4 linked regions of the Homo sapiens genome follow. The protein of the gene in region 4 interacts with the protein of the main gene of each other region in a biochemical or structural test. Each region holds a gene or a part of one and is shown on either strand. Other genes may lie near its edges.

The links.
Region 1: the proteins of PALS1 (region 4) and DGKK interact in a test that uses a peptide from one of them, tested with the Homo sapiens proteins (one large-scale study listed by IntAct).
Region 2: the proteins of PALS1 (region 4) and ARHGEF16 interact in a test that uses a peptide from one of them, tested with the Homo sapiens proteins (one large-scale study listed by IntAct).
Region 3: the proteins of PALS1 (region 4) and SLCO1C1 interact in a test that uses a peptide from one of them, tested with the Homo sapiens proteins (one large-scale study listed by IntAct).

What each region holds. Positions count from the first base shown.
Region 1 is NC_000023.11:50,380,326-50,384,816, forward strand, and holds part of DGKK (diacylglycerol kinase kappa), read right to left. Parts: coding exon 4,395-4,491; intron 3,940-4,394; coding exon 3,843-3,939; intron 2,279-3,842; coding exon 2,171-2,278; intron 1-2,170. UniProt on the Homo sapiens protein: Diacylglycerol kinase that converts diacylglycerol/DAG into phosphatidic acid/phosphatidate/PA and regulates the respective levels of these two bioactive lipids.
Region 2 is NC_000001.11:3,474,174-3,478,664, reverse strand, and holds part of ARHGEF16 (rho guanine nucleotide exchange factor 16), read right to left. Parts: intron 3,958-4,491; coding exon 3,883-3,957; intron 2,696-3,882; coding exon 2,603-2,695; intron 791-2,602; coding exon 639-790; intron 242-638; coding exon 53-241; intron 1-52. UniProt on the Homo sapiens protein: Guanyl-nucleotide exchange factor of the RHOG GTPase stimulating the exchange of RHOG-associated GDP for GTP. May play a role in chemotactic cell migration by mediating the activation of RAC1 by EPHA2.
Region 3 is NC_000012.12:20,735,841-20,740,331, reverse strand, and holds part of SLCO1C1 (solute carrier organic anion transporter family member 1C1), read right to left. Parts: intron 3,226-4,491; coding exon 3,060-3,225; intron 149-3,059; coding exon 1-148. UniProt on the Homo sapiens protein: Mediates the Na(+)-independent high affinity transport of organic anions such as the thyroid hormones L-thyroxine (T4), L-thyroxine sulfate (T4S), and 3,3',5'-triiodo-L-thyronine (reverse T3, rT3) at the plasma membrane.
Region 4 is NC_000014.9:67,331,128-67,336,610, forward strand, and holds the end of PALS1 (protein PALS1), read left to right. Parts: intron 1-1,652; coding exon 1,653-1,829; 3' UTR 1,830-4,934; downstream 4,935-5,483. UniProt on the Homo sapiens protein: Plays a role in tight junction biogenesis and in the establishment of cell polarity in epithelial cells.

The sequences.
Region 1 (4,491 bases), on a different chromosome or scaffold from region 4:
CAATATTGGTCCAGACTTGGAAGAAACAGGCTATATTCAGACATCAATGCTCATAAAAAGCTATGAGCGTAGCTGGCTGGTACACACCAGCTACCCTAGTTGTGCTACTCCAGGAGATTTCAGCTGCTTGGAATCAATTTCATTTGAAACACGTGACTCTTAGAGTGCAATTTTTTTTGAAGCAGCAACTTTTCTGGCAAAGTGAAGTACTTTTCCAAACACCAGATCCATATACTAAATGCCTAATTCAATGCCATGGAACAGATCTAAGCTTGTAGGGAGATTTTAGAGGAGGAGCCAGTGGAGAAAAATAGGAGACAGGAAAGGATATCAGGTGACTTGAGGTGGAGGTGGGGAGGACAGCGTCTTGTTGACTGTGGAATCTCTGATAGAAATAGGTGGGGCACTTACGATCACTAGAAAGGCTGGATATAGTTTACTTGGAGCTTGTAAAGTAGAGCCACAGAAATGAGCCATCATCACATGGAATGAGTTTTGAAATGTCAGAAGGCTAGCACAAAATTATTGAGACACTGTTTAAACCATTCATTCTCTGGGCACTTTGGTGTTCTCATCTACAAAAATAGGAGTTTAGGTATATGAAAATGTACAATACCTAGAACAAACCAATTCTGAAAAAAAGAATCAAGTGGGGGACTTTCATCTCCCAATTTCAAAAACTACTGTAAAGCTATAGTTATCAAGATAGTGTGGTACTTGCATAGGATAGACACATAAATAAATAGAACAGAAGTGAGAGTCCAGAAATAAACCCTTGCATTTGTGGTCAATTGATTTTTGACAAAGGTGCCAACACGATTCACTGGGGAAAGGATAGCTGTTTTGAAAAATGGCTCTAGATCCGGGCGCGGTGGCTCATGCCTATAATCCTATCGCTTTGGGAAGCTGAGGCGGGCGGATTGCCTGACCTCAGGAATTCGAGACCAGCCTGGGCAAAATGGTGAAACTCCGTCTCTACTAAATTACAAAAAATTAGTCAAGCATGGTATCATGCACCAGTAGTCCCAGCTACTTGGGAGGCTGAGGCAGGAGAATTACTTGAACCCAGGAGGCAGAGGTTGCAGTGAGCCGAGATCATGCCACTGCACTCCAGCCTAGGCGACAGAACAAGACTCCGTCTCCAAGAAAATAAAAAAAATAAACAAATAAATAAATTAAAATGGTGGTGAGATAATTAGATATCCACAGGCAAAAAGATAAACTTAGACTCTTACCTTAGACCCTCACACTATACGTAAAAATTAACTCAAAGTAGATCATACACTTAAATGTATTAATAAGAGCTAAAACAATACAAACTTTAGAAGAAAACTTAGGAGCAAATTTTTAAGATCTCAGATTAGGCAAAGATTTCTTACAGATGGCACCAAAAGCATGGTCCATAAAGAAAAAAACTGATCAATTGGACCGCCTTAGAATTCAATACTTTTGTATTTCAAAGATACCACTAAGAAAATGAAAAGACCAGCAAGAGACTGGGAGAAAATATTTGCAAATCACATATCTGACAAAGTTCCTGTTTCTCAGCCCAGGCCTGCTTTGAGAAAGAGGTTCTAGTGGTGGTGGCAAGGGTGGGGTGTTGTGGGGTGGGGTGTCACACTTTTTACTTATAGCTTCAATGTACCACAAGAACTCTGAGACTGACTTAGGCCTTGTCTGAAGTATGAAAGTGCGAGAAGGTGCCATGCAGGCCAACACTGGATAGGGTAAAATTAACGGGTTCAGGGGAACCAGGTTAGGAACACCAAAAACAAATAGAGGGATGTTTGATACTTTGCAACTTTGTCAAGTGAAAACAGATCTGAAGCCACTACTGAAACCTGGTTAAACTTTCACAGACAGAACAAAGGTGGGCGATTTGCTAAATTGAGTCAACATAATCTGTTGTCAGTAACAGTAACACAGGTAGCTGTGTTTACACAGAAATCCACAGGTCTGGATTTGAAGGCAGCTCAAGTTTAGGATGCCAGTGCAGTCATCCAAAATTTGGCACACACTGTCCCGCTAGACTAGTCTTGGGGCCAATGCATTTTACTTCCAGTGGGTCCCTTTCTTTCTGTTGCTTGTCTGAGAGGTAGAGAATGTAGGAATACGTATGTGTATTGTGATAGTGTGTTTGCATGTAGGGAAGGGAGTTTCTTTTCCTTACTTGTATTGCCCTGGGTGTTCATCTCTTCTGGTGTTGAAGTCCAGAGAAATTTTAGCATCCAGTCCAATTCCGAAGTAGTTGTTCATGACACATTTTTCTTTGAAGCGTCTGAAATTATTCAAAGAAGAGGACAGACATTGGTGCAGGAAAGAAGTGCCGCTATCAATTGGGCATGAAGATGAATCTGCATGATGGAAAACCAGTGAGGGAAGGCCCCCTCCACACTGGGCACTAACTATAACATTTTTGAGAGGCACATGTAGATATCCTTTTGTGTGAACAACTAGCTTATTAGCTGTAAGAGGGAGTGCCTCGCCAGTTGGGAAGCTTCAGTGGGATTGGAACTCATAATAAAGAAGCAACATTGATGATTTTAGTCATCTTTGGAGGCCTTATGTATGAGTGGCCCATATTTTCTTCATATGTAGTATTAAGGGAAATACTGTTTACTCCTATAAAGAACTTTTGAATATCCTAGACACAAACGTGCCATGACAGTTAAGTCTGCACAACTGCTCTCAGTGATGTCCGACATCAAAGGGGAAAATGACCACACATTTGGAAGGAAAGACTGATAAAAGAGGGTAGATATGTACATAACAAAAAAGCCAAATTATTTGTCAAGTCTCCTGTGTCCATCTAGGGTGTCAGCATCAAAACCAGTGGTGTGCCATAGCCAGTTGGCACCAGCTCATGTAAACTGATTATGCATATCTCTTTCCAACTCCAGATTCAATGGCATTATATCACTAACTTAAATAGGCCATGGTGGAAGGGTTTACACCATAAATGAATCAGGGCTTTCTCCCCCAAGAGAGGAGGTTGTTAAACACTTTGCCAGTGCACTATTGATCAAAATTCATTAGGTAGATCCATGAGAGCTCAGACATAAATTTGAGCCAATGGTGAAGTGTGGGGGCAAGAATGCGGGTTGGAGACAGGAATAAAAATTGTTTTCTTAAATAAATTATTTAAGAAAACATAAATAATTTCTAGCTGTGTCCTTTTGAGAAATTAAATGGATACAGTTTAGCTGTTTAATCTTAGATTACTTTTTTATTCATTACCATACTGACCTTACATCTCTCACATGAGATTTGCCTCCCTCAACCACAGTCCAGAGATTGGAGTTTCTCTAACTAATGTCCAAACTGATCTTCTTAATGGAACTCAGAATGAGTGAGTGTGGCAGAACTTGGCTGCTGCCGATATTCTAAAGAGGGAGAACTGGTGAGACAGATGTCCTTAGATTTGCTGCCTAGTCCCCTAGTGACCATTTTAGTTTTTAGTATCTTCAACCATTTACTGTTAAGGGCAACAGTGAAAAAAAGCAAGTCCTCTGTAATAACAACAACTAACATTTATTAATTATTTATAATAATAACAATAATAACTGCAAATGCATATAACACTTAATTATGGGTGCCAAGCACTACTCAGTGCAAGTACTTTTCATATATAAATGTAATAAATACAGCAAACCCATGATGCAAGTTCTACAATGGTCTTCATTTTACATATGAGAAAACTGAGGCTCACACTGGTTTAGTCACTTGCGTAGGTGACACAGCTAGTAAGTAAGAGAAAGGATTTGACTATGGATATCCTAAGATTGTGCTCTTAACAAGAGAAAGAAAGAAGCCATTAAAAGGTGATAGAGTTAAATACTTACATAGATTCAGGTGTAAAATGTAAGTGATCCAAGTTAAGGTTGTCCAGGTCCTCACTTTTGAGAGAAGATATAGAAGACAAAGTGCCACGACGAGAACCTAGACACAAAAGACATCACTTGGGTGACGGATACAAACAAAAAAGCCCTTTCCCCTCACTTGTATTTCGCCCTATTTTCTCTGTGGAGGCAGGGTCAAGCTCAGTGACTTTCTCCTAGATAATATTAAGGGTTCTAATTCCAAAGAGGGATCCTCTTGGATGGATAGGGACTTCCACTGAGAGAAGAATAAAGCTGGGCTGCTTGCTTGCTGGCAGTGAAAACAACTTCAAATCTTGTATTTCATCAGGCCAGCCTCTTCAATGTTCCTAATGGGGTCATTACTCTGGACATTGGCATGGGATCTTATAGTGTGAGTTTCTGGGAAAGACGGAGGGGTATCTACTGCAGGATTATGGCTAAAAGAGGATGCATAAAAAATACATATTTATTCTTTGGGAGCTAAACAACAGTGACGAAGGCTAGAATAAGGGAAGAAGACAGAAAGATCCTTACGGCGTCGTGGGCTTGTCTGGTTAATATCTTCTGGGTCATCTTCCAGGAAGAAAGTTGAACTAAAGTTCTTAACAGATATTGTCTGTCTGCTTTCCTC
Region 2 (4,491 bases), on a different chromosome or scaffold from region 4:
TGGAGCTAATGTGCCTGTGGCCTGGGAACAGCCCTCCCGGGAGCCCACTTACGCGGAGTCCGAGGAGAGCAGGAGCTGCTCCTGGCGGCCCTCGCTGTTGCGAAGCAGGGTCACCTGGAAGGGGTGGGGCACGGAGGAGCTACGGTTGCCGCCCCCGGGCAGAGGGAGCTCAGACGGCTCTATCTTCTCCACCTGGATGTGGTTCATCTGGGCGTAGTCCTGGACCATGTAGCTCTCCTCGCTGTGGAGACACGGGCAGTCGGTGGGACGGTCCCACCCAGCTCCTACCCAGTGCTGCTGGGCTCCCGTCCAGGTCCCACCCGGCTCCCCTGCAGTGGTGGGGAGGCAGCCACGGACGGGCTCCAAGAGTTCCCGCGTCCCACAGAACAGAGGCCATGGCTTTCGAGTCCTCCTCGTGGCTATCACCGGCAGACCCAGGTCTGCAGAGGAGGTCAGAGGCTGCACAGCGAGCGCCACCTGCCCCCGAGTGTCACGTAGAGCATGTGCCGAGTGGAAGCCGCGCCTCGGCTCTGAGGTCAGAGGGGCTCAGGGCCAACTCCCTGTACCCTCCTGCCCCAGGGCCAGCGGTCCAGTGTCCATGGAGTGGGGCTCCCCACACCCTCCTGCCCTAAGGCCACCTCTTCTTCTTGGTCACAACCAGGACATCGTTGAACAGGAAAAGGTAGCACGTTGGCCGGCTGGCAATTTTTCGAAAAAGTCCGGTTTCTTCCACTAAGAACAGCTCTCCGCGCTTCAGCAGCCACCGGGAGGCAGAGATCAGTGGGAGGGACTGGGGGGACAGAGCCGGGAGGCGGAGATCAGTGCGAGGGACTGGGGGGGACAGAGCCGGGGTGAGCAGGTCCCCAGGGGGTCAAGGACGCATAGCACCAGGTGGGACTGACTCCTGCCTCTGGACTGGGTGACCAGCTGGCTGCCCTCAGTCGGGGCTGGACAGAGGAAAGGGGCACAATGTGTCCGGGCCTCAAATCGAGGTGCGCCAGGCCGGACCAGACCCTGCCCGATAGCCCAGGGCTGGGTGACCACTGAACATTTCACCCAAGCCAGGACTCGAAGGCCAGTGCTGGGGAAGCCTCCACACACACCTCACCCCTCCGTGGCAATTACGCAGACGCTGGGCCTCCTAGGCACAAGGACCTGCTCAGCCCCGAGGGAGGGTTGGCAGGGGCAGGCCCACCCGTGATGGCCACGCTCCACGTCTGGGGCCTTTCCTGGCTCCTGAGCCACAGAACATCCTCCCTGCTGCCTGGTGCTGAGTTGCTGGAGTCAGTGGGGGGCAGAAGGATGGCAAAGGCCAGAGGGTGGGCAGTGTGGGGGTGATGGGGTGGGTAGTGTGGGGGTGACGGGGATGGGTGTCGCAGTAGGGGGTGGCAGTACAGGGTGGGGGGGAGGGCAGAGTGGGAATGAGGAGCCTGCCCACCAGCTCCCGCTCCTCAGCGACTGTTGACACCTCCTCACCTGCTCCCTGTGGGCCCCGGCTTCCCCACCTGTGCCCACTACAGACTCAGAGCCCCCGGCACCTCCCGCTCCCGGCCTCTGCCACCACCCTCCCTCCTGGATGGGCCTGTTCTCCCCACCCCCACACCCGTTTCCAAGACCAACTTCAAGACCATGTGGGGGTGAGAGCCCCACTCAGGGGTGGACCAGGCCTGGGAGGGGGTCCTTGCTCTGGCAGGGGCAGGCGTTACACCCCAGACTCGAGAGGATCAGGGAGACAAGCGTGAGGGCTGCACGGGTGTGGGCTCAGCGACAGCGGCGCGAAGTCACCGCCCTGACGCCTGCCCCAGGCAGCCCGCCCTGACCCACCCCGGGAGCCCCCTCCCCCAGCTGGGACCCCGCACCCTTACTTGGTTGTCCGTGGCCCTGAGTGAGGGTGGCTGGTGGCCTGTCACCCACTTCTTGCTCCACCCTGAAGGACACCCCCTGGATGGGGCACCAGGACAGGAGACCCACCTGGGCCCGCCTTAGGGGAGGGGCCCTGGGCTGTCCCAGGACAACAGAGGATGCGGCCAGTGTGTGGGATCGTGGGTGGGGGGCTCTGGAGGGAGAGGTATGAGCCCTGCCCGTTTGTGGCAGGGACTAGGGCTGCCCGGGCCTGGGCTGGAAATATTTCACCCTACCCAGAATCCAAGCCTCACTGGGAAACATGGAATCTGGGCTGGCCCTGAAATCACCCTGTCCCCTCCGCTCTGTCCTCAGGCCCTGCCCAGCCCCTGAGGGGCCAGCAAGGAGCGCTGGCCCCAGGCAAGTGCACTGACAGGGCCACTCCTGTTGCCCCCTGGGCTTGGTCACTCAGGGCCTAGGGTCTACCCTTTGCCGGTGCAGTCCTGGGGATGGGGCAAGGGCCACAGAGGCCCACCCAGTGGGATTAGGGGAGGGGTCCACAAGGGGCGCTCCCAGATCGGGAGACTGAGGCCTGGAGAGACCAGAGCCACCAGCCCTAGGAGGCCCAGCCCCCAGGCCTCATGAGGGCAGGCACCCACTCTCCAGCCCTCAGGCTCAGGGGTGTGACCTCACACGCAGGCCAGCAGGGAGGGCTGAGTGGGAAGTGGTCCGAGTGGCCCTGATGTCCGGGGCCACCTACCTTGACCTTGCTGAAGTCCAGCTGTGTGTGCAGCGTGTACATCTGCTCCATGCGCTCCATCCTGTGGGCCCCCTCGTTGCACTGCCTCACCAGCTGCAGGGCATGGTTCCCGTGTGAGAGGCTGGTGCTACAGGGCCCTGGCACAGCCCACACGGCCCACAGTGTGCCCAGGACACCTGCCCAGCCAGCCTCTGGCTGCCCACAGTGCCTGCCCTGGACCAGCCGTGCCACGGGCTCATCAACTGTGTGAGAGCTCCACTGGCTCTAGGCCTCAGTTTCCCTGTCAGCACTGTGAAAGGCTTGGGATGGATAATCTGGGAACCTCTGGGCCTCAGTTTCCCTGTCAGCGCTGTGAAAGGCCTGGGATGGATAATCTGGGAACCTCTGGGCCTCAGTTTCCCTGTCAGCGCTGTGAAAGGCCTGGGATGGATAATCTGGGAACCTCTGGGCCTCAGTTTCCCTGTCAGCGCTGTGAAAGGCCTGGGATGGATAATCTGGGAACCTCTGGGCCTCAGTTTCCCTGTCAGCGCTGTGAAAGGCCTGGGATGGATAATCTGGGAACCTCTGGGCCTCAGTTTCCCTGTCAGCGCTGTGAAAGGCCTGGGATGGATAATCTGGGAACCTCTGGGCCTCAGTTTCCCTGTCAGCGCTGTGAAAGGCCTGGGATGGATAATCTGGGAACCTCTGGGCCTCAGTTTCCCTGTCAGCGCCGTGAAAGGCCTGGGATGGATAATCTGGGAACCTCTGGGCCTCAGTTTCCCTGTCAGCGCCGTGAAAGGCCTGGGATGGATAATCTGGGAACCTCTGGGCCTCAGTTTCCCTGTCAGCGCCGTGAAAGGCCTGGGATGGATAATCTGGGAACCTCTGGGCCTCAGTTTCCCTGTCAGCGCCGTGAAAGGCCTGGGATGGATAATCTGGGAACCTCTGGGCCTCAGTTTCCCTGTCAGCGCCGTGAAAGGCCTGGGATGGATAATCTGGGAACCTCTGGGCCTCAGTTTCCCTGTCAGCGCTGTGAAAGGCTTGGGATGGATAATCTGGGAACCTCTGGGCCTCAGTTTCCCTGTCAGCGCTGTGAAAGGCTTGGGATGGATAATCTGGGAACCTCTGGGCCTCAGTTTCCCTGTCAGCGCTGTGAAAGGCTTGGGATGGATAATCTGAGAACACTCGCTGCCCTGGAAGGTAGGGGAAGCCAGCCCTATGCCATCGGGTAGGGTGGGGTTGGGTGGGGACAGGGTCGGGGTACAGGACTCGGGTAGGGCTGGGGCCAGGCCCCATCTTACCTTGCTGATGGCCTTCAGTGCACGGCTGGCAGCCTTGTACCTTTCGGAGTGGCCCTGGGTCTTGAGGCAGAGCGTCTGGATGGACAACAGACATGGGACAGAAAGTCCCCTCTGGCATCCCAGGTGTGGAGGCTCCCACCAACGCCAGACCCCGTGTGGGGCTGCAGGGTGGTCAACAGCTGCCCCCAGGGGGCTCCTGCAGGGCCCCACAGCACGTACAGCCCCTGAACGGCCTCTGCACCACCTGGAGCTCTGCCAGGTCAGGCCAGGTTGAGTGGGAACAGGAGCTAGCACCCCTGCCTGGAACCCTTCCCTTCCCATCCTCGGCCATCTCCATCCAACTTGGGGAATCGTCAGTGGAGGCCCCCTGGCAGCCCCATTTCTGCACATCCCTGGGGCCCCCAGGAGTTTGAGGTTCTGTTTGGCTTGGGCAACCCTGCCATGTGTAGCCTCAGGAAGCTTAGCTCAGTCCTGCCATGTGCGGGGCTGTGTGTATGGGCAGCATGCACATGTGTGAATATGCCTGTGCACCATGTGCATGCATGTGTGTGCATCCACGTGTATGTGTGTGCACCGGGTGCATGTGTGTGCAGTGCCTGTGTGTGCATG
Region 3 (4,491 bases), on a different chromosome or scaffold from region 4:
ATAAAGTATAGGATGTGATGACTGAAATTACAAGGAAATACAGAAACATTTGGGGACATCCATTGTCTTTCTGACATCTTCCCACTATGCCTGAGGAATTTCCGGATTTAGAAGCTGCAATTCCCACACAAGTGCAGTTGTAAAATATCTGTAACACGATAGGGAAAAGTCCAATTATTTCAGTAACATTTAAATAAAGTTAAAGACAGTTATGTTAAAAATGTTTACCGTAGCCATGCATTATGTAAACAATGAGGAAATATTCTTTTATTTTTTTGTATTACAGTATATTGAGCAAAGCAAAATCTATATAGATACAACATTTCATTATCTAAAGAGCAGATGACTATCTACAAACTACTAATCCTGTACAACAATCTCCCAGCAAATCCTGCCTAATCTAACCATACCTTACCTCCTTCGCTACCACTTCCAATGCTAAGTAACCATGATTTCTTGCCTAGATTGTTACAATGCTCCCTTTATGCGCAACTTGTTTCCAATCTTATCTAGCTAGTATCTGCTTTCCACCCAGTAAGTAAAGTGAACCTTTAAACATGGCAGTCAGACTGCATCACTACCCTCAACCTGCCAGTGGTTTCTCATCATACTTGCATGAAACCCCACATCCTTATAACAGTTTACACTTTCTCCATCATGTAGCACCTGGATGCCACTCTAATCTCACCATTCAGTGATCTTCCCTCTCTTCTTCTGTGTAAGCCACACACATGACCCTTGCAAAGGCCCCATTTTGCCCTTTCCAAACATCCCCTCAAACCTGGCAAGTTCATCCATGCCTCACGGCCCTGCTATTTTCTCTGCCCGGGCAGCTCTTCTCTTCGGTGATTACACAGCTGGCGTCCATACTTTAGTTCTCCGTTTAGAGGTTTTAATAGAGACCTTCTATGACTATCCATTTAAAAAAAAAAACAAAAAAAAACAACTCCCATCTCTCCATCTTCTTATTCTAATGTATGTCTTTTTTTTACAGTGCTTCTTACTACCTATCAGGATATCCTGTATTTACTTATTTTTAAAACATACTTTCCCAACAGAATGTAACCTCCATGAAAGCAGAAACTGCTGCTTTGTTATTATGCAACTGGGGAATGGAATAGACTCTCATTTTAGGCATTTGATAAAACTTAGTTAAGTAAATGGGAACAATTTGAGGATATGACATAATTTACAGTGGCTATGAGAAAAAAATAATTCTGGTGCATAAAACTCAACTAAATTTTGACTGAAGAGAGACAATTTGTATAACCCCTCAATAGTTTATTTCTGTAAATTTTATTTATGAATGCATATATATAATGTTATCATTTTTAATCACAAAAGAGTTTGTGAGTTTTTAGACCATAAATAAAGCTGGCATTTACTTTTCTAGAAAGAGTGGCAATATAGATTTTTTGTAATGTCAAGTTGAAACCTTTGAATCTTAATTCTGGTCGCTCACTAGATAAATGAGTTAAGCAAGTCCTTTGTATCTCAGTGCCTCAGTTCTCACATGAAGAAAATACTGAAAATAATGCAAATTATTTCAGGACCATGAGATTTAAATGTAATTTTGTTCTTTTAACACCAATCTTTAACCTTTCCTTGTAATGTCTTTTATAAATGGTAGCTCTCATTACAAAAAAACCTTCATGCAGCTGTGAGCAAAAATAACAGTAGCTGAAAGAAAAATAACAAAGGAAGAAAGCAAAGAAAAGAAAAAAAGAGAAGCATGAAAACATGTTTCAGATGAGTAGGTAGTCTTATTCATTGTTGCTAGAAACCAATCCTTTCTGCTGTAAATAAGTCAAAATAATAATACAATGAACAGAGTAAATTAACAAACTTAACTGTATATCTGTGGATATACAGCCTAAGTATTCATATCCAGTTGATAAGGATATATAAATAAATGAGATACATGGGTGGTCTAATTTTCTGCCCTCTAGGATTGTCAAATAAAGGCAAATTTAATCAGTCACAAATAGAAAGCAGTCTCAGAGAGCAAGGATAAGGAAGAGTCTGTTTGGGACAGGAATGGAAAGGTGTGCTGAGAAGGGTGAATCTGTTAATGATTGAAGTACTTTACATCCTTCACAATTGCTTTCTGTTAAGGATTGAATATTTTCCCAAAATTCATATGTTGAAATCCTAACCTTCAATGTGATGGTATTTGGAGTAAAGCATTTAGGAGGTAATTAGTTCATGAGGGTGTAGCCCTCATGAATGTGATTTTAGTGCCCTTATAAGAAGAGACAGGAGACCTGTCTCTCCCTGTCTGCTCTCTGCCATGTGAGGATAAAAGGTGAAGATGGTCATCTGCAAACCAGAAAGTGGGTCCTCACTAGGAACCAGTTCTGCTGGCACCTTGATCTTGGACTTCCCATCATCCAGAACTATGAGAAATAAATGTTTGTTGTTTAAGCCACCCATTCTATGGTATATTTGTTATAGCAGCCTGGACTGACTAAAATAGATTCCTACCTATATTTCCTACCTCATCTCCCTCTTCTGCCCTATGGAAACCCTCCATTCCAGCCCACCTGCCCTTTCATTATTATACAAATTGGCTTGATTTTCCAAAGTTGTCCTAGAACCATCAACCTCCTCATTATCAGATCCCTGACCCCAAGGTCTAGAATCTCTGGAGCTAAGCCTCCTAATACTGGCCTCTATTTGTTCATTCCCTAAAACCTCCAAGGACCACGGATCTTAGGGCCAGGGGACATGGATCTGAAAGCATATCTTATTATGATGATCATACGACAGACATTCTAATTCAGGGCTAACACTTCTTATAAGCAAAATGAGAGAAATAGACTACATAATTACAAAATCTCTTCCACCCTATTTGATGACTCTAATTCTCACCCTAATTTTTTCAGCAACTCCAGTACCACTAGGAATGGTTATAACATTTTCTTTTTCTACAAAAAAGGACCAGGCAGAGGTAAGAGGCAAGCCTCCTACTAGTAGTGGTCTGCTGTGAGCCCCCATAGAGTTTTGTTGTTTATATTGTAACAGGACCATCGCCATATACTTGAGAGGTGATTTCTTACAATATTTTTTCCACTCCTGTTGGAGGTTTGACAACCAGCAAGACAAGCTGATACATATGTGATTCCATTTTCACCGCACATGGGTTCCCATTTTGTCTCTGAACATTTGCATCTTGAGTTGCAATCTGAAAAGAGAGCTCGTTCATGATAAGAGACAGGTTTGGTTCTGAAAAGAAATATAACAATATAAAATATTACCTCTTAGCAGGTAGCACCCGAATATTTTCAAAAAATCAATGTTCTTGAGTGATATAAATGATACTATGAACAAAATTTGCCTTTTAGAAACACAGTTGTCATCAGAAATGGCAGCTTCTGGTCATGAAATGTGAGTTTACTAATAAACAGCTTTCTCTTGAAAGTTATCTTTAGAGGTTTACAAATTCACATGATGTCCAGTTCTTAGCTTATAGCTTTCAGTCTACAGCCTCTAGGATCTTCTAATATACTTCTGTGCAAAGGTGTATAAAAATAGCTAACAAGGTAGAAAAGTAAACTTTTAGAGCAATTTATGACACTACTTCAATGCATCACAGGTGGGGTGTGTGTGTGTGTTGTGTGTGTGCAAATTTCATTCAGAATTGTTGTCTAAGTATGAGTGGAATGGATATTACTAATGGTCCAGTAAAAGGAAAAATAGCCAATCAGTTATCAGTTAATTCTCTTTCAGTGTTTGCAGGAGTTACATGTCCTCTTGCATGTGTGTAACCAACAAGTGCATTCCCAGTTCATTCAACCTTTCTCCTGTGTATCCTCCCAGTGTATAGTGCTCTTTCATATCTTATAGCATCCTTTCTTACTCAAATTCACAAGTAAGTTCAATGACTTACCCATTTATTTGTTGATAAAATTTTACTGGAAGCCTACTAAGTGCTAGCTCCGGGAGAATAGGAGATGGTTACAAACATTAATGAGACAAAATTTGCACCCCCCCCCAAAATTGGTTTTTTTGAGTTATTTCACAAAATTGTGATTGCATTCTTTCTTTTCTCCTTCATTTTTTTTTGTTCTCTGCCATTCGCTTTTATATTTATCCTTCATCTCTCCCAGTATTCTCTCTCCCTCACTTTTTTTTCTGTCACCTGAATGGCCTAATCCTTCTGCTTTTATCCTTTTTTTTGCTATTCATATTCCTCTACTCTTCTCAAAAGGAACTTTTGCAATGGTATGTCATTTCTATCTGCACCATATGTGCCATTCATTGGCCCTCCATACTTCATTTTTTCTGCTCCTTATTTTCAAATTTATTTATTTGCTTATTCCTCATATCTTTCCTCCCATTTTTTATAAAGATAGCTGAGGAGCTTAAACAAACAAAAAATACACTGAACTGTACAATCAAGAGAGGCAGGAACTATTTTTGTATTCACTCCCATATGTCCAGAACCAGGAATAATTCCTGTCACACAGCAAGCTAAGAAACAAAATTTCC
Region 4 (5,483 bases):
TCTGCTTCCTGGGTTTAAGTGATTCTCATGCCTCAGCCTCCCAAGTAGCTGGGATTACAGATGTGCACCATCACGCCTGGCTATTTTTTGTATTTTTAATAGAGACGGGGTTTTGCCCTGTTGGCCAGGCTGGTCTCAAGCTCCCGGCCCCATGTGATCCACCTACCTTGGCCTCCCAAAGTGCTGAGATTACAGGCGGGGGAGCCCCTGCGCTGGTATTGGTATTTCTAATAGTGCTTTATTACTCAATGATAGAAGTGCTGAAGTAAAACAGATTTTCAATTTTAACTCTATAAAATTGTGCTAAGAAAATGATGGCGTTACAAAATGTAACCAACCGGTTATCTAGTTGCATTCTGAATCTCTGAATCTGTTCTGCTAGTATGAAGGCTTGAGAGTGGCTATCTAGCAGTATGAACTTATTGTCAGTTTTGCCTAGTTCAGCTAAAAATTTTGAGCTAAAACATTTTGTTTCATCTTAGTCGTGGATTGTAATTTGAAAGAGAACTTCAGACATGAAGTACTAAATAAGTGATATAAGCCATTTTGGCACAAAATGGAATAACAATGCCTTAAATTTGATAAAAACTAGGTGGATTCGGGCTTTATCATTTTCATTTCAACTCCAATACCACAAAGTTTCAGTTCTCTGTGGAGTCCTAGAATGTTCTTCCAATAATCTTGAGCTTACGGTAGACATAAGTTTTAGCAAAAATGTCAGTGTGTTCAGTTACAGTGGTGAAGTAGATTCCCTGCTGGGAACAAAGGATTCTGTGTGCCATATTCAGATGTACAACATTCCAGAATGAGAGTCATGCAAGAAACTGCCTCAGGACAAGCCAGAGTTGTCATATTTTTAATATGTTTTCTTACTGTTACAGAAGTTCAAACAGTTGAATGATATAAATTGTTTTGTACTATGGGTCCAATATAGTATTGATGTGTGACTTTTATATCTGAGACATTTTGTCTTGAGTTTAAGTTAGTTGTCTTCATTGGCAGGGGTGATTTGAGGTGAGTTTCACTTTCTTGAACCCATGTGCCTGATAATTAGAGGGTTCAGGATAAGTTTTGCACATAGCCTTGCTGCCTGCTTATCTTTGTAAAATGGCCCTTTCCTTCAGTCAGTATTTTAAAGTAGGCTACTCTATATAGTTTCCCAAACTCTGGTAGGATACTTTTAACTCTCTGCAGCAGATAGTATAGGGCAAGGGCTCTTTACTAGAGCCAAAAGTAAATGGCATTTTAGGTCCTTGCTCCAACCAGAAAGGTTCACTCCATATTACAGATGTTACTATTAGGAAGAGGTTATAGTGTCTAGAATGTTTGAAAACAAATGTTTGTAGGGAAACAGTGTGTGTTCTTGAAGCTTGTAGTTTTGTTGGTGAGATAAGACAAAATATGTGAAAACCTAAATAGTGGTATAAAACAGGATATATTGAGTCCCAGATGGTTCATAATATGAGTCGTGAAGATGCCAAAGCAAAGGTAACCATTGTGGCCGTGACAGGGTTGGAAAGGAGCTCCTGAGGTTGGGAGAGACAGAAGGAAAGCTATGAAGGTCGCTCCTTGTTCTTTGGCCATCTCTGACTCATCCTATATTATTTGGTTAGGAAAGGAATTATCTCACAGTTTTTATCTTCTGTTTGCAGCCTGAAGAGTTGAGAGAAATCATTGAGAAGACAAGAGAGATGGAGCAGAACAATGGCCACTACTTTGATACGGCAATTGTGAATTCCGATCTTGATAAAGCCTATCAGGAATTGCTTAGGTTAATTAACAAACTTGATACTGAACCTCAGTGGGTACCATCCACTTGGCTGAGGTGAAAGAAACATCCATTCTGTGGCATGTTGGACTTGATCTGGCAAAAACTGCCAATAGGAGGACTGCCCGACACTGCAGCAAGATTGAGGATAAGATGGAAGGCAGCAGTATAAGCTGTAGATCTGTTCTTAGATCTCTTGAATTAGTGAGACGACAGTTCCCTTAGGCAGTTTGTGCATGGCATCCTTTATTCTCTATACATGGCTTTAGCGGTTCTTGCCTCATTTTGGGATTCTAAATGGAAGCTTTCAACAGAGCATTCCATTTTGTCCTGTTAAAACCTTTTGTTTTCACCTAAACCCTTTCTGCTTAGTTGTATCTCTGTGAAAAACTTGTATACACAAGCGTCCATGTCTCACACAAATATTGATGTGATTATTCTTAAGTGTTAAATCATTAACACTTAAATGACTTCATTGGGAATATTGAGCAGAGGGACTGTGCTTCTATGCACTGGGCAAGGCAGTATTTGCTTAGGAAACTAATTTAGTCATCAGAGATACTTTCCTAAAAAGGAAAAATAAAAAACAAAATGGTGCCACTTTGGGTTGAAGCTACTTTGTTAGGCTTGAATTCATTTATATGTCTTTTGATTCTTAAAAAAACAAAAAACATTCCATTAGAAGCACCAGTTTTTTTGCTCAGACTTTGTGGATCAGACTCTACACTCAACACACTCTAATCTACTTAAAGGTATACAAAATATGCTGATCTTTTTTAAATTATGATTTCCTGAATTTTTTTCTTAAGTCGTCTCAACTGATTTACTCACTTAGCTTCCCTTCCCTCATCAGCATAGTATAATAGAATGTATGTTACATTTTTATGAATGGCAGGTGTTCATTATAATCTGTATTGACTTAAAAAGTTTCTTCCTCATGATGCTAATAGTTTTTTGTATACATGGGAGGATAGCACATTTGACAGTTTTTGCATTTTTATGTATGAGCACAGTATCCTATGACTGTGCTACGTATATATAGGTAATAAACTGGAATTCTGTTGATGAATATAGCTGCTGTACTGTATATTAATATTTAATAGATCAACAAATGGTCATTGAAAACACTTGTTTAGCATTAGAATAAAATTATATATGTCCTTGGGAAATATTATGACAGTTGACTTTAAGATCAAAAGGAAGGGAAGACCTGAAAGTCATTTGAACATTTTAGGAAAAGAATATTGGAGAGAAAAAGGTATTAAATATATAGAAATAGGTTTTTAACCTAACAAGGTCTGCCTCTTATGACGAGAATGCAACAGCTTGGTAAATCATAAAAGAAACATTTAAGCTAATAGGATTTTCGTACTGTCTCTATAGCTGTAGCTTTAAAATTCAACGTATATAATTGGCATGGAAACTTAATTTGCAGTCTTTTCAAGCCTTTAGGATAGTGTGATGTGTAACAAACAACCTCAAATGTGAATGCCTTGATTTTATTTTTATGGTGACTTTAGCTACAGCATTTCCTATACCCAGAGCTAAACACTGGAATAATACTGACATCATTTAATTTAACATAAGCAATTATGTTTAAGGAGTAATTTGTGTCATGTACATATTTGATTGATTTTTTTTCTTCTACATAATTTTATTTGAACAAATGTAGACAGTTTATATGTCGCCTTTTTCTGTTCAAATTTGCATGGCCTATTAAGTTGGCTGGAGAGTGTTTTATGTGGAAATATTTTCAAGATAATGTTCCTTAGGAAGAAAATAACATTCTTGGGTTGAGGGAAGGAATGCCATACACTACTGTCTCTTCAGATCTGAAATACTCCAGTTTAGAGCCAGGAAATTTCACAGGTCACACCGATTTTTAGCATTAAAAACTAAGGAATATACTTAGCACTTACTTAATCTTTTCAGTTTTCCAGTTTACGTCTCAGGAATGAAGTGTAGTCTATGGTTGACAATGGAGTTTTGTGATCCTGCTTATTGTAACTGACAACTGTTTTCAACTCCAAGAGCTAAACTATTGGCAGTTCATGTTAAGTTAGAGTGAGGGTGTAGGTAGTGTCAGTGAGTGGCTCTTGTGCCTGCTGTAGACATTAGGCCTGCACTAGGGCCATGTGCTGTCAAGATTCAGGAACATGGCTTTAACAAGCAGATCTTGTATCAAGGCAGAGGTGATGCCATGCCATACTTTTAGGAAGTCTGAGATGATAAATATTTCAAGGTCAGTGAAGTCTATCAATCATTCTCCCCTTCCTCATCAGCAATGGTAGATAGAAATGTCCTAAACTTTTCTAAATCCTAGTGATGAGGATGTGCTGATATTCAACATAGTCCTTAAAGTGAAAACTGAGTTGTTGCTGACCTCCACAAAAGAATATGGAAAAAAGCCTTGCTGTACACCTAGTTGTACAGCCACTCTGGCCAATTCCATTTCCTGTCCCTCTGTGGTTCTGACTGGAGACCCCAGTGTGGGGGAGGTCTTACCATTTAATATAGAAATGATATCAATAACTAATGCTATGTACTTGGAAAATCCAAATAAGGAAGTTTTAGGTTGGTGCATAACTTTGTTTCTCAAATTTTCGTTGTCAGAACAAATGGAAGGAGAATATTATTTAGACTAATCCAGATTTGCTTTCTATGAAAATCTAATGTCTGGATTATCTTCCTTTTCTCATGGCCTAAGAAATAAGGATCAATAAGGAATGATTTGAATGTAATTTTGTGAATGTGTGGAAAATATAAAGCAGGGATTTAGCCTTAATAAAGGTAACCTTCTGACATCTGTTGTTAATCCCCCTTTGTACTCTTTTCCTGTATCTGCACTGTTATTTTGAGATGTCATACTGTACACTGTATTGTAAAAATAAAAAGTAAAATTATATTTCAAATTTTAAAAGCCACTAAGCAATTTCTCTTGCTATTTGCTCGGCCACTCAAGGTTTCCACACATGTAAAGACCACCCTCCTCTTCAAGTTTTTGCCAAAAGCAAGACCATTGGATCCTCCAGCTACAACACAAAATACTTTTTGATTTGTTCTTTACAGAGGGATAGTGCCCCCTGTTGGCACAGGTATAGGTAGGTCCTGTTTCCTTAATTATTAAAACCAACAACTAAGTGTATTAAAGATGGACAACGCAAGGCTGTGAACTTGAAAGTTTTCTGGAGAAGGAGGTATGTAATAATACTCAGGCAAATGGACCTTATGTGCAGCCTGGGATCTGAGGACACTGAGGCAGCATGTGAATTATTGGCAAATATATAACATATTTTGTTTCTCCAGTCTTCATTTCTCCTTTTTTTCTGCTGTACATCTCCCAAAGGTCATAAATCATACACCAACAAACAAAAAGTTTCTTACATATATACACCTGTCACCACAGTTCAGCTTTCCATTCCTATTCCTGATCTATATTCTTCTCCTATGTTTCAGATAACTGACTCCACACAACAAATTATGTGTCCATTGTTTTCTTGATTTCTTTTTAACAAATGCTAAACTATAAAGTCATCTGCACTTTTGTAAGTATTTTAACAAGGCCAATACATTCCAGGTATTTAAGAAGCCACAGGAGAAATCTAGGGTCCTTTGGCTTGTTGCTTTACATTGAATTTACCTACATGTGGAAAACCACTAATCTGGATCCCTACTTCAAACTAATTTTTGCCTCCTAGAAAGGCAGTACGTAATT